4 linked regions of the Homo sapiens genome follow. The protein of the gene in region 2 purifies or fractionates together with the protein of the main gene of each other region. This does not show direct contact. Each region holds a gene or a part of one and is shown on either strand. Other genes may lie near its edges.

What was found.
Region 1: the proteins of NOBOX (region 2) and C5orf22 purify together in Homo sapiens (affinity purification with mass spectrometry; one large-scale study listed by BioGRID and IntAct). This does not show direct contact.
Region 3: the proteins of NOBOX (region 2) and CCNJ purify together in Homo sapiens (affinity purification with mass spectrometry; one large-scale study listed by BioGRID and IntAct). This does not show direct contact.
Region 4: the proteins of NOBOX (region 2) and DHX32 purify together in Homo sapiens (affinity purification with mass spectrometry; one large-scale study listed by BioGRID and IntAct). This does not show direct contact.

The regions. Positions count from the first base shown.
Region 1 is NC_000005.10:31,542,273-31,545,863, reverse strand, and holds part of C5orf22 (UPF0489 protein C5orf22), read right to left. Parts: intron 219-3,591; coding exon 152-218; intron 1-151.
Region 2 is NC_000007.14:144,400,850-144,405,115, forward strand, and holds the start of NOBOX (homeobox protein NOBOX), read right to left. Parts: upstream 2,845-4,266; coding exon 2,808-2,844; intron 1,102-2,807; coding exon of another isoform or gene 1,020-1,101; intron 749-1,019; coding exon 197-748; intron 1-196. UniProt on the Homo sapiens protein: Transcription factor which may play a role in oogenesis. Binds preferentially to the DNA sequences 5'-TAATTG-3', 5'-TAGTTG-3' and 5'-TAATTA-3'.
Region 3 is NC_000010.11:96,046,534-96,050,124, forward strand, and holds part of CCNJ (cyclin-J), read left to right. Parts: intron 1-3,591.
Region 4 is NC_000010.11:125,871,268-125,874,858, reverse strand, and holds part of DHX32 (putative pre-mRNA-splicing factor ATP-dependent RNA helicase DHX32), read left to right. Parts: intron 1-3,591.

The sequences.
Region 1 (3,591 bases), on a different chromosome or scaffold from region 2:
ATTTTTTTCACTCATTTCTTTTCTTAATAATTGTTTCAGACTTCACAGGAACACAAACAAAAACGAACCACTTTAACAAAAAGGAAATTCTTCTACCCAGAAAATTGTCTTTACAAAGGGTCAATTTTACACATTAATATAAAATATTTACCATTTCATAGTCTGGTACTTCCATCCGTTTTTTCAAACTCTGTACAAGGGGAACTAGTGATTCCATTCTGGAAAAAAGCCATCCCACTCAATTAAACATCACAACCACCACAACTAAAATGATAATAGCAAATTATACATTATACTAACATTTACCATAATAACATGCTTCATATGGCACTTGGGAAATAAAAGATAAAGCTGTTCAAATATCTTAAAATATTAAGAAATAAATGTTTCCTGTTTTCTTACCCAAAAGATTACACATTGTGTTAAAGACTAAAAGTGAGCATTCAAGAAAATGAGATTTCTTCTTCAAAAATGGGAAGTTCTACTGACTTTAAAAATTATTTTGAGGCCAGGTGCGGTGGCTCATGCCTATAATCCCAGCACTTTGGGAGGCCGAGGCGGGCGGATCACTTGAAGTCAGGAGTTCGAGACCAGCCTGGCCAATGTGGTGAAACCCTGTCTCGACTAAAAATACAAAATTAGCCAGGTGTGGTGGTGCATGCCTGTAATCCCAGCTATTCGGGAGGCTGAGGCAGGAGAATTGCTTGAACCCAGGAGGCGGAGTTTGCAGTGAGCTGAGGCCGCACCATTGCACTCCAGCCAGGGTGACAAGAGTGAAACTGTCTCAAAAAAAAAAAAAATTATTTTGATTAGCAAGAAAACTAAGTGTTTTTAGCACACTGTGATGAAAAAAGGCTGTTTCCTGAAAGCTAAAAAAAAAAAAAAAAAATTAAGGACACGTTTATTTGTATATACAATTATTATTACTATTGAGACAGGATCTCACTACCACCCAGGCTACAGGGCAGTGGTGTGATCATGGCTCACTGCAGCCTCGAACTCCTGGGCTTAAGGAATCTCCCACTTCAGCCTCCCGAGTAGCTGGGACTATAAGTGAACACCACCACACCCAACTAATTTTAAAATCTTTTTGTAGAGATAGGGTCTTGCTATGTTGCCCAGACTGGTCTTAACTCTTGGCCTCAAGTAAGCCTTCCACCTTAGCCTCCCAAGTGTTGGGATTTTACAGGTGTGAACCCAGGCCTAGCCAGTAAATACAATTATAATCGGAAAAATCCTACATCATCTGATATAACATTGATGCATTTTTTTTTTTTTTGAGACAAGAGTCTCACTCTGTTGCCCAGGCTGGAGTGCAGTGGCACGATCTCGGCTCACTGCAAGCTCCGCCTTCCAGGTTCACGCCATTCTCCTGCCTCAGCCTCCCAAGTAGCTGGGACTACAGGTGCCCGCCACCACGCCCGGCTAATTTTTTTTATTTTTTAGTAGAGACGGGGTTTCACCGTGTTAGCCAGGATGGTTTCGATCTCCTGACCTCATGATCCGCCCGCCTTGGCCTCCCAAAGTGCTGGGATTACAGGCGTGAGCCATCGCGCCCGGCCACATTGATGCTTTTAAGGTATTAAGTTTAGGTGGACCTTTTGGAAGCTCTGATTGGCTAATGCTTCTAGTGTTTTAATTCCTCCTCCACAAATATTCACGAATTTGCTGGGAGTAAAAAAAGAAAGAAAAAAGGAGGCATGGAGGCCTGCCTGCTTGCCCACTTGTCCTGTTACTTTTTCCTTTTAATTAATGACATTTTCTAGGCTTCTGGACCCTAAACACCCACCTCACTTCCCTAGACATAGCGAAGCCTCCATGCCGAGGGTCTGGCTCTTTAGGGTCATGGTTGGTTTGGGGAGACTTTTCTTTCAGTGTCATCTACTTTTCCTTTATGCTATTTTTTTTCTCCCTTCAATACCAAGCACAGTCTAAACTCACTACTGTTGCAGTCTCATCATATTTTCAAGTCTGTGATAGAACTCTCTGCTGGTGATGAGGAGCTAACTGGGCATGCTCAGTAGGCAGAGTGGGTTTCAGTGGAAGTCTGTGGGCTGGACTTAGGATTCCAAGGTTTCCAGGCCTATTTTGTTGTTGTTGAAGTTTTAAACTTAGCTTGAGACTTCATGAAATAACAAAATAATAGGTATTTTTCAGTATTTCTAGGAAGACTCCTGTCCTGTGACTTATTTTTCTATCTCCCTCTTCTATCATTTCAAAAAACAGGGAATCATTTTAGAACCCTATACTGAAGAGGAAAAAGCATTAACTGATTTTTTTTTCTTTCTTTTTTTGAGACAGGGTCTCCCTCTGTCACCCAGGCTGGAGAGCAGTGGTGCGATCTCAGCTCACTGCAGCCTTGACCTCCCAGGCTCAAGTGATCCTCCCACCTCAGCCTCCCAAGTAGCTGGGGCCGCAGGTGCATGCCACCATGCCTGGCTAATTTTTTGTATTTTTTTGTAGAGACAGGATTTCACCATGTCACCCAGGCTGGTCTCGAACTCCTGAGCTCAGGCGATCTGCCCACCTTGGCCTCCCAAAGTGCTCAGATTACAGAGGTGAGCCACCACGCCCGGCCATTAACTGATGTTAAAGTGCCTAATCAATACTTACTGATGTGATTAATATTACTGTGAATTATTCTTCCACATCACTGCTTTGTTAGTGTCAATAATTAAAGCTTTATGATGTTTACATTTTAGGGATGTTTCTGAATATTTTAAGTAAAAATTACAATGAGTATTTTGAATAGATAATACGTGCACATAGCAAAAGAAGTAATTTCTCACTCATATACTTCATCATTTAGCCATAGAATTCCTCTCCCCAGAGGCAACCACTGTTTCAGCTTTTTCCATATTCTTCTAGAGATCTGCTGAATTATTTTTAATAACCAAAACATGACAAATCTTAGTGGCTGTTCATGTTCTGGCCTAAAGTACTATTGATTCTAATTTCCCGTTTTATCTTGCTACCTTACAACTGATTTTCTTTTGTTTACACCAGAGAGAATAATATGACAGTTCGTGGGAGATTAGTTTTAAAATAAGCTAGTTCTGGTTTTCCTATGCTCATGGGGACAAAAAGTTTGTCTGATGGTTTTATTTTAGTTTTCTGGCTGTTTGAGATTACATGATTTAAGAATTATTTTAGAGAAAAATCACTGTAATATTTATGTCAATATTCTTTCACTCCAGCTTCAATACCAAAGGCTTTCACTCAAAAAGAACTTCTCTCTCCATTCTTTCAAGGTGATATGAACAGCCAGTCAAATAAATTACCTGATGGAGAATCTAGCCTTCAAATACTGCTCCTTCACGTCAAGAGATTGAAAATACCCTTCCACTTGTGTTTGGGTTTTCCTTAAAAGAAGCTAAGTTTTCGCTTTTTTTTTTTGAGACGGAGTCTCAGAAAAAGTCCAGTCTCCACAGGCTGGAGTGCAGTGATGCAATCTCGGCTCACTGCAAGCTCCGCCTCCCGGATTCACGCCATTTTCCTGCCTCAGTCTCCCGAGTAGCTGGGACTACAGGCGCCCACCACTATGCCCGGCTAATTTTTTTTTTTTTTTGGTATTTTTAGTAGAGACTGGGT
Region 2 (4,266 bases):
TCTGATGTGATAACCCAACCTTCCCTCTGAGGGTCAGAGATAGTTGCACTACCGCGGCCCAAGAGAGAATCCGGGACGAAGTGACATACAAACTAACCCCATCCCTCAGGTCTCCTGGGGGTAGATTCTTCACACAGCCCCACCTTTCCCCAGGATGACCCCAGATCTCTTCGGTTTCCTCTCTTTAGGGACTTACCTGAGCGGTATAGGGTTCGTGTCTTTTTCCTAATTTGGCAGGTCACTTCCGGGGGCCCCTGCTTGTGGTCTCTGTTTTGGTTGCTCTGCGCCAATGTACTGAGGAGATTGGCCAGGTGGCAGGGCCCCCGGCCTGACCCACAGGGCACTGGGTTGTGTGTGGCACGGGCTGAGTTAGGGGCACCCGGAGATGATGTTGGGGCCAGACCCATGGCATTAGGCTTTTTCTGCTTCCCGGGGGCTGGAGAATAGGACCTCTTTCCTATCTTCACCTCTCCCACTGGGAGGGAACAATCTTCCCCCTGAGTCTGGGGCCTGGAGCGGGCTAGAGTTCTGTCTTTGTGGGGAGCCCTGGAGCGGGGGGGCGGGCACAGTCTCCCAGCATCAGCCCCGGTGGCTTCTCCAGAGACTGCTGGCGGCTTCTTCTCTCCTGAGATGGTGCAGGAGGGTGGCAGTTCCTCACTCTGAGTGTCCTGAGCATGAGGGGCTGAGCCCCGGAGCAGTTCCTCCTCCCCGGGTCCTGCAGCCAGGGGCTTCTCTCCAGCTTTCTGGCCTGTGGGGAGCCAACATCCACTGACCTTAGCACCAGGGAGAAGGAAGAACTGGACCAAGAGGAAGTGCTGCTTCCTGCTTTGCAAACGGTTTGATCTTAAGCTTTAATTTGTCTACCTATCAAATGGGGTAATAATTCCACACTTACCTTCCTAGCTTGACTATTGTGAGGATTAAATCAGATAACCCAACTTCTTTGAAAAATGTAGACAAATTTATGCAATTCTGAGACGGCGTTAGCTCATGGTATCTCCTAATTTGGGGGTACTCACCCCTTGTGAGTTCCCTTTTCCCAGACACCAGGGGTATGAGTTTGAGGGACTGTTCAGGTATCTCTAAGGGATCATGTTGGGGCTGCGGATGGACCAGGAAGACAAAGAGAAACAGATTGACAGAGATTCTGCTTCTCCCAAGGCGGGATGCTGTTTCTGCTGCACAACAGGCATTATTGCTTGGAGAAGGGACAAGAAAGGATTCGATTGTCTCCAGCAGCCGAGGCAAGAGCATCAAAAGAGATAACAGGGAGAACCATGGAACTCTGTCTCTGCCAACTCTCCTCAGCTCCATACATGCCCCCCCGCCCGCACCCCCCACCCCACTACCATCCAGCACATCCACTTCCTCCCCCTCCCTGCAAAGCAGGATCTCACTCTCTGGTAAACCTCTCTTTCGAGTAAGGAAACTGGGACCCAGCTAGAACTAAAAACCCTACCACTCATCCCTAAAGCTTGCCTTCCTTTCTGTGAGCTGACTGATGCATTGGGAGCTTATCATGTTCCAGGCATGGCGCTAAGCACCTTTCAAAGATTAGCACAGTGCATATTTAATCTCTGCAAGAACGGCACTGCTAATATTCCCTTCTAACAGATGAAGAAATGAGGATGAGACAGCAGAGTAATATGTCCAAGATCACACAGCACCCTGAGCACGTACTCTGTGTACTTAATCACCACATGGAGTCCTTCCTGGGGCCATCAAATGATCCCCCCACTTTCACCTCCCAACTGACTCATAACTCCAAGAACCCTCAGCTCAGGGAGCTGCTTTATCATTTCCAACTAAATTGGAACATTTGTAATGAATGCTAAGTAACGACTAAGAGCTACTGTTACTTTAATGAAAATTGCATGAGATAGGTCTTAAGGAATAACATTTTTTTTTTTTTTTTTTTTTTTTTTGAGATGGAGTCTCGCTCCGTCGCCCAGGCTGCAGTGACATGGTGCAATTCTGGCTCACTGCAACCTTGGCCCCCTGGGTTCAAGCGATTCTCGTGCCTCTGCCTCCCAAGTAGCTGGGATTACAGGTGTGTGCCACCACACCCAGCTAATTTTTGTATTTTTAGTAGAGATGGGGTTTTGCCATGTTGGCCAGGCTGGTCTCCAACTCCTGACCTCAGGTGGTCCACCAGCCTCGCCCTCCCAACGTGCTGGGATTACAGACTTGAGCCACTGCGCCTGACCCTAGGAATGACTTTGTAACAGAGTGTCAAGGAAAAAGGTCATGGTCAAGGGTGCTGTTCCAAGTCCTTTCCTAGGACACAGGCTGGACCCGACTTGCATGAGAGGGTCTGGGCTGGTGAAGAGGGTGAGCAGGCCTCTATGGAGTGAAGGGACAAAGCTGGCTGGTGGTGTGGGGAAGCAGGGACAAATTTGTTTTACAGCATTTTAGGAGAGCTTGTACTGTAGCAAAAAGCCTGGTACCCAGCACTGTGGGTGCTCCGTAAGCACGTGTCCTATGGGAGTGATGTGCGCTAGTAAGAAGGGGACGGGTGTCAGACCTAAGACTAGAAGGGTCCTGGGGCTCCCAGGGTTCTCTCCCCTGCGCGCTGGGAGACTGGAGGCGGGCAGGGGGCGCGGGGGAGCGGGGAGGGGGGTTGCAATCCCAAAGCACAGGGGGCAGTGAGGTCGGCCTCCTCCCACCCTACCCCACCCGACTCCACCCGGCCCTCGGCCTACTGAAGCTCTTAGGTCGGCTAACGCTGACCTGGTGATCACAGGCCTCCCCCCCTCCCCGAACCCCCAAAGCCTGACCCCCTCGCACGACGGGGTCTCCACACTCACCCAGCGGTCCCTGGCAGGGATTCTCTGTGGGTTCCATGGCCTGGACTCCCGCCGCCGCGGCCGGCCCGTGATGCACAGGCGCGGCCTAATGAAGCCTCGCCGGGCGGGCAGGTGTGCAGCCCGCACGGGCCGGGCCGGGCCGGGGGAGCCGTAGCCCGAGGCTGCGCCCCCTCACCCCCACCCCCACCCCCAGGGCGAGGCCGGCCCGGGAGGCTCGGCTGGGGCAGCTGCGAGGGCGGGGAGGACCCGGGCCTGGGCGCCGCCTGCTCCGCTCCCCCCAGCCAGGAGCCCAGGCCCAGGTGCGGGTCTCCTTCAGGCGGCCCCTCCCGTGGCGGGGCTGGAGGGCGAGGCTGGGGTGGGAGGCGGGAGCGAGGCTACCCGGTGGTCTTCGGGGGGCTGGGCCCAGCCGTGGGGCTCACCCACACCCTATGGAGGACTCAGTCCTGGATCGTGGCTAAAGCCCTTCCCTGTGGACTGTGGAAGGCGATTTCTAGAGCCACTCCTCAAAGGGGAAGCGCTGGGTTGCCCAACTCCCATGCTAGGGCCCCTCCAAGCCTCAGTATTAAGGAGCTTCAAAGTCCCCTTCCTGATTTTGTTTGTTTTTGTTTTTGAGACGGAGTCTTGCTCTGTCGCCCAGGCTGGAGTGCAGTGGGGGATCTCGGCTCACTGCAACCTCTGCCTCCCGGGTTCAAGCGATTCTCCTGCCTCAGCCTCGCGAGTAGCTGGGACTACAGGCGCCCGCCACCACGCCCGGCTAATTTTTTGTATTTTTAGTAGAGACGGGGTTTCACCACGTTGGCTAGGCTGGGCTAGAACTCCTGACTTCAAGTTATCTGCCCGCCTGGGCTTCCCAAACTGCTGGAATTACAGGCGTGAGCCACAGCGCTCGCCCCCCGTACTGATTTGAGGGTCTCCAGAGCACAAAGGCTGCACCGGATGATGAAGAAGGAGCTGAAAGAGCCACAGACTCCGTAGATCCGGTACAGTCCACACACAGGAAATTCAGGTACAGCCAGGGGCGGCCCTGCCAGGGACGGTGTGGTTACTGTGTTTCCATCCATTTGGTGTTTCGATTTTATTCTCTGAGAATGGAAGGGACTTTCTTGGGGGAGATCTCACAGGGGTGCAGCCTTATGATTCCTGGTTCACGGAATGTTTCTTACTATCTTTATACAAACAAAATCAGAATTTAAAAATTCTTGCCTCTTCTGAGCGGGGAGGGGTAGAAAGTCGGAGGGCTGGTCAGATAGAAACAGGTGCTTGGAGCTGGGTGGGGAGCGGGGCGGCCTGGAACAGAATCCAGGTGTTTTGCTTTAAGGATTTAAAAGACTCTGGACACCACGTGCTTTCATGCTGAAATCAGCTGTGGGTACATTTTCCTATTCCTTTAATTGCCTTGAGGGGCTTGGCCTACACATGTGGACTTTGGAGGATTGTGAGACCTTTAGTTCTTTCTGAA
Region 3 (3,591 bases), on a different chromosome or scaffold from region 2:
TTAGAGCAATAACAGTGAACGAGACATGATCCTTGCCTTCATAGTCTAACCTTATCTATAATTTAGAGCATCCACATTTAGGTCTTCCTTTGGGCAGTTGCCATTGAGATACTGCAGAAGGTATTCTATGTTTAGGCCCTAGGTTTGTGGAGAAATATTTGGTGTGACTAGCATTGTGTTTACTAGGGAAGAGTGAAAATGACAATGAATGGAAATCATGCCAACTATCCACTCCCTCAAAAAACCCCTACAAAGCAGCTGTCACCTTACACCCTTTTGTCTCCTTTCTTCTCATTATTTTGCTGTGTATAGTTAGTGTCATAGGCTGTTTGGGAAAGTGTTTTTAGGAGCCTTAATGACAAATGGGAACAATTCTAGCTTTGTGAGAAACATTAAGAAAGTGAAGTCCATCAGTGTTTTCCAGGTGTTTCCAGGGAGTCTTTAAGACCATGTTCAGGCCACTTTTTGGGAAAACCTGCTCTGGTTTTGCCTTTTTTCCCCAACTCCCTAATCCCTGAGCTAAGTTAGATTTTCTTCCTAGGTGTTGCCATAATAACCTGTGGTGACTATATTGTGTGATAAGCTCTGTATTTGATTCACCTGCTAGAGATAGGCTTGAGACTGTTTTTCCAGCTTTTATGCCTGGGTTAGTATAGTGTCTGCTGCATGGGAGATGCTCAATAAATGTCACATGGTGGCAGCAAAGGTAAAGTTGCAACTCACTTACACCATTGTAAAGATCCAAAGAAAGAGTTAAGGAGAAAAGAAAAATCCTAGGAACTACATGAGAAATCGGCATCTTCCCTTTATGTGGAAAAAAAAAATTTTTTTGGCCAGGCATGGTGGCTCACACCTGTAATCTCAACACTTTGGGAGGCTGAAAGCAGGTGGATCACTTGAGTCCATGAGCTGGAGACCAGCCTGGGCAACATAGCGAGACCCTGTTGTACAGAAACTAACTGGGCGTGGCAGTGAGCGCTTGTAGTCCCAGCTACTCCAGAGGTTGAGGTGGTTGGATTGCTTGAGCCTGGGAGGTGGAGGGTGCAGTGAGCCAAGATGGCACCACTGTACTCCAGCCTGGGCTACAGGAAACCCTGTCTCAAAAAACAACAATTGATGTATTCTTTGGCTACACTACTAAATTACATTGACTATTTTATCCATTTATCTTAGGTAATATTAAGTTAGGTGAATATATAACTTCCCTTTTTTGTTTATCGTAAAATGTATCAACATAAAACTTTTTTTCCCCAACTTTTAAGTTCAGGGGTACGTGTGCAGGATGTGCAGGTTTGTTACATAGGTAAACGTTTGCCATGGTGGCTTACTGCACAGATCATCCCATCACCTAGGTATTAATCCCAGCATCCACTAGCTATTCTTCCTGATCCTCTTCCTCCTCCCACCCCCACCCTCCGACAGGCCCCAGTGTGTGTTGTTCCCCGCAACATGTGTCCATGTGTTCTCATCATTTAGCTCCCACTTATAAGTGAGAACATGTGGTATTTGGTTTTCTTTTCCTGCATTAGTTTGCTAAGGATAATGGCCTCCAGCTCCATCCATCTCTCTGCAAAGGACGTGATCTTGTTCCTTTTCATGGCTGCACAGTATTCCATGGTCTGTATGTACCACATTTTATCCAGTCTATCATTGATGGGCATTTAGGTTGATTCCATGTCTTTGCTCTTGTGAATAGTGCTTCAGTGAACATACACATGCATGTGTCTTTATAGTAGAATGATTTATATTCCTTTGGTTATATACCCAGTAATGAGATTGCTAGGTAAAAGGGTATTTCTGCCTCTAGGTCTTTGAGGAATCACCACACTGTCTTCCACAATGGTTGAACTAATTTACACTCCCACCAACAGTGTAAAAGCGTTCCTTTTTCTCCACAACCTTGCCAGCAGCTGTCATAACATAAAACTTACCATTCTAACCATTTTTAACTGTACAGTTCAGTGACATTAGGTACATTTGCATTGTTGTCACCACTATCTATCTTTAGAACTTTTTCATCTTCCCAAACTGAAACTCCATACCCATTGAACGATTACTCCCCAATTTCCCACCCTCTAGCTTCTGATAACCACTATTCTACTTTGTCCCTGTAAATAGGACTATTCTAGGTAACTCATTAAGTGGAATCATACAATAAATGTTCTTTCATGACTTTTTTCATTTAGCATACTGTCTCCAAGGTTCAACCATGTAGTATATTATAAGAATTTTCTAAGGCTGAATAATACTCCATGTATATACCACATTTTGTTTATCCATTCATCTGCTGGTGGGCATTTGCATTGTTTCCACCTTTTGGTTATTGTGAGTAATCCTGTTTTGAACATGTGTGTACAAATCTCTCTTCAAGTCCCTGCTTTCAGTTCTTTTGAGTATGTACCTAAACGTGGAATTGCTGGATCATGTGGTAACTCTGTTTAATTTATTGAGGGATTGCCATACTGTTATCTGTAACAACTACATCATTTTACATTCCCACCAGGAATGCACAAGGATTCCAGTTTCTCCACATTCAAGCTAACACTTATGATTATCTGGTTTTGTTTTGTTTTGTTTTGTTTTTTGATAATAGCAATCCAACTAGGTGTGAAGTGCTGTTAGTGGTTTTGATTTGCATTTCCTAATAATTAGTGATGCTGAACAAACATCTTTTTCATGTTTTATGATATTTTTTGGGCATTTGTGTGTATCTTCTTTGGAGAAATGTCTATTCAAATCCTTTGCCCATTTTTATAATTAGGTTTTTTGGTTGTTATCCAGTTGTATAAGTTATTTATATAATCTAGCTATTTACCCCTTATCAGATATGATTATAAATACTTTCATCCATTCTGCGGGTTGCCCTTTTACTCTGTTGATAGCATCTTTTGTTAAACAAAAGTTTTTAATTTTGTTAAAGTCCCATTTCTCTTTTCTTTTTCTTTTTCTTTTTTTTTTTTTTTTTTGCAGGGTAGGGGAAGTTCTGCTTTTGGTATCGTATCCCTGTTACTTCTTCTATTGTGATACCTGTTGGGTTTAGTATCAGTATTATGCTGATCTTATAAAATGAATTTGGAAGCTTTCCATCTTTCTCTATGCTCTGGAAATATTTTAATAGTATAGAATTTTTCCAGTTTTTAAAAAACAAGTTGATATAATATAGTCCTGAGATTGAAGTGATTTTAGGTGTATGAGAGGATGATGGGAAAGGGCAGATCATAAAACTGTTAAAAGGGAAACAAAATTAGAAGATACTAGAGGAAAGGTACTGCTTTCTACACTGTTGCAAGTATAATACTGTATGCAGCATATCCACTTATCTATTACCTTCTAACCAAAAGTTCTGAGCATCTTGGAGAGGTGTAGGGGCGTGTGTGTGGTATGTGGTTGGTTTGTCAGGGATGTTTTTCTGAAAACACCTGGTAGGGAAAACAGGATTCTCTTATTAAAAATCTTTGTAGGATGTATCCATTCTAGAAAGCAAGAAACAAGAACATCTATAATTGTTCACATCAGAAGTGGTTAAGAGTAAGGAGAAAAATTTGGTTTTAAATGTCATTCATTATCCCTCCACTTAACTTTTTCATTTTT
Region 4 (3,591 bases), on a different chromosome or scaffold from region 2:
CATCTATTTGTGGCTCTGTTTCTCTCTGTCTTTCTCTATTTTTATGTATTTCTATTTTCTTACCTCTCATATTTTTTATCTCTCTTTCTATATCTTAAAAACCATGAGTTTGTACTGATGCCTCTGATTCCAGTTTAGCACTACAGGGTTTATTCTAGCCTTCCCAGTTTTCATATCCATAACTTCTCTATGAGAAACAGGGCTTCGTGTTATTCACACTATCTTTACCTGTTCTCAGATTGAACAAGTAAAGATACTCAAAAGAACAATTCATATTGTAGTTTCAGAATTGCTAATCCACACTGCAGTTTAAAAAATTTTTTTAATCTACTTCTTGAGTTTTAGAATTTATCATCTTCAAGAGCAAGAATTGTTATATGTTATATGTTATATTAATACCTAGCAATGGTTTCTCTTGTCATTTTTAATTTCTCAATTATTTCAATGAATTAGGCTTATTTTCTGTTAATTGGGACGACATGTATCTTCAAAGTGAGAAAAATCAAAATGGTACTCAAATAAGAAAATGGATCTATCCTAAACTAATTTAGATAGTGGGAGCATTGGTTGGTTTCTTTTGGAAACAACTTGGTTTTTGTTGTTGTTGTTTTAAGAGTTTGCGAGACTGTTTTCTTGTTCTTCAGAGTTTTAAACCTTTCAAGAAAAAAGTCTTTCTTCAGAGCCAAGCTTTACAAAGGTCCTAAAGATTTCACCTGTCTTTGGTGCAGAAACAGAGGACAATTTCCCATATGTTTATAGAATCTTTTCTTATTACATTTTTTGCAGACAGGTTATGAACGATCCTAAAAGAGAGAGAAAAACATCTCTAGAAGTGTATATTTTGCTTATTTCTCCTTCTCTAGTTTTTGTCCTGAAATTTCCCATGAATGGATGGGTCAGTGAGGTGAAAAAGATATGAAAAGATATGAAAAAGAATTAACTTAGATTCTAAAAGATGTATGACTTAGAACATCTGTACTTCTATTGACTGAGTAAACTTGTTCACCATTTTCTGCTGGTAGGTTCTACCTGTATTCACTCAAAACCAAGATGTATGTGAATTGTTATCCAGGGATGTGTGATATTTGATTCAGAAGGGACCTCACTCCTCAGTAATGGATTCTGATATATTGGCTCACTTTGGGTGGGATAGCTGCCTTAGGGGCATACTCAGGCTAGGCATTTTACAGGAATGTTGTTGAAACCATTAAGACTTGCAAACTTAAAAACCATGAGCTTGTGCTGATGAATTCAACACTGAATGTGTTGAATTCACCTTTGGGTGAATTGGTGGTTCTTTAGATTCCTTTAAACTTGTAGATTCTGTTTTTCTGGTACTGAAATTAAAGGGAGTGATTGGGACCTTGGCAGTAGCTTCAGGATTGGTGGTCCTAGAGACATTAAGAGAAGAAAGCAGAAGAGGACTCAGGCCCTGATGGACGTCCTGATGATCAAAAGTGAGGGATTAGAGGCCTTTGGGACTAGTATGTGTCTAACAGAACAGTAATAGCATTGTGTCTCATGGAGGTCCTTTTTTTCTCACTTCATTTATTCTCATTTAACTATATTAAATTATAGTTAACTAACTTTATTATCCATTAGATGAGGTGAAACAATCACTGGCAGTAGATGGAAAGGACAGAAAGTTCTACACCAGTGTAGCTCATGTGGAGGTCCTCTTGCCACAGTGGCAGTGATGAGACCATACACGGATACGTGATGCCGCTGCTGCTCCCTTGATTCTGATCTGGATCTGGTTGCAGATTCTTATAGGAGATCTCCCTGCAGCCCACCCTAAAGACCCCAGGCCCCAGCTCTCCCACTACCCAGCAGCCCAACCTCTGTGTGCTGCCCGGAGTTGGGAATGGAGCATCTTTGCCTCACTGTCTGAATTTGTACAAGTTGTAGAACTGCAGTTGCTAACTTAGGTTGATAAAGCCTTGATTTAGATTAGATTTTGATTACCCGGAGGACTCCTCTTACCTACTCTCATAGCAGCAGATTGGCCAGAGTGTTGGTGATTTCCTTTCAGGTAGGCGGTAAGAGGCCAGGGATGCACATTCTCATGCCTCGATTGCTTACCTTGCATGCCCCAGAGTCAGTTCCAGCTGGGCTTTGGGACAGAGCATAGGGCAGGCCCCACTGCTCTGGCTTTATGCAAATGGCACATCAGAAGTACAGAAAACTGAATTTAGAAAATGGATTGAGAAACATGAAAAAAGTATTTGGTGAGTTCAGAATAAAGAGATGTGAAGTATTGATTTCTAGTTAGGGAGCATTTCCAGACCAAATGCGTAAATCCAAGGGTTGCACATCACCAAACTCCCAGGATAAATCACATGAAAATAGCTTTTTTTATGTGTTAGAGGAGCAATTTTCTGTTTCTTCACCATATTGTGCAACTTTTGCTAAGTACTCAGTCACAAAGTGACCCAGAATTCAATGTTTCTCTGAAAAAAGTTAAAGCCAAATGATTCATAGAAAGGTACAACTATTTAAGCTTTTCTAATTCCCATAGTGCCAACTTGGCAACTAGTCCATCCAGAATAATGTTTTTTAATACTAGGGGGGAATATCTTCCAAAGAGGAACTATGGGGTAGAAACAAAACCTCTAACAGGCTTGTAAGTCATTGGTGAGAAGACAAAGATGCAACTGGGACAATGAAAAAGTTGCTAAGTAGTACCCAGAAAAGTTAGGCCAGGTGTTGTGGCTCACACCTGTAATCCCAGCACTTTGGGAGGCCGAGGCGGGCGGATCACCTGAGGTTGGGAATTGGAGACCAGCCTGACCAGCATGGAGAAACCTCGTCTCTACTAAAAATACAAAATTAGCCAGGTGTGCTGGTGCGTGCCTGTAATCCCAGCTACTTGGGACGCTGAGGCAGGAGAATTGCTTGAACCCGGGAGGCGGAGGTTGCAGTGAGCCAAGATCCTGCCATTGCACTCCAGCCTGGGCAACAAGAGTGAGACTCCATCTCAAAAAAAAAAAAAAAAAGAAAAGAAGCAGAACTAGGGGAAGAAAGGTCAATACCAACAAGAGATACAATATTTACTATAAATGCAGAGAAGGCAAGAGTTCTTTGTAAAGCTGCAATCTCAGTATCCCTTGAAATGTGAAATACTCAAATTATCGACATTTGCCAAATGATAACATTTTTTAGCCAGTAATTCAAGTTTGCTAAGGAATCAACCCTCAGTATGTTACTTAGCTTGCCCAGAGTGATTCAGAAGGCATGTAAAACTGGAGAACTCTAACAAATAAGGCAGATGGTTTCATGTTTCCCTCTTTTCTGGCTGGAGATAACCTTTTCAGTTTGTGTTTGCATTGCTTACTGTTAACTATCTCCAAGTAGCTGTTACTGGAAGGGGAGCTGCATCCTATGTGGTCAGAGCCACAGTTGAGTACGTGCAGTATAATTTGTTGTGACTTCTGCTCAACTATTAACTTGGGCACGTAAGCAAACATTCCTACATTAAGCACGATATGGATATGTTCAGTCTTCTACTGGTTATTGTAACTGATATTTAGATGGCCTTTTCCCATTTCTGAATTAATGTCTTTGCCTCATAGGTGAAATAGTTTGCTCTAA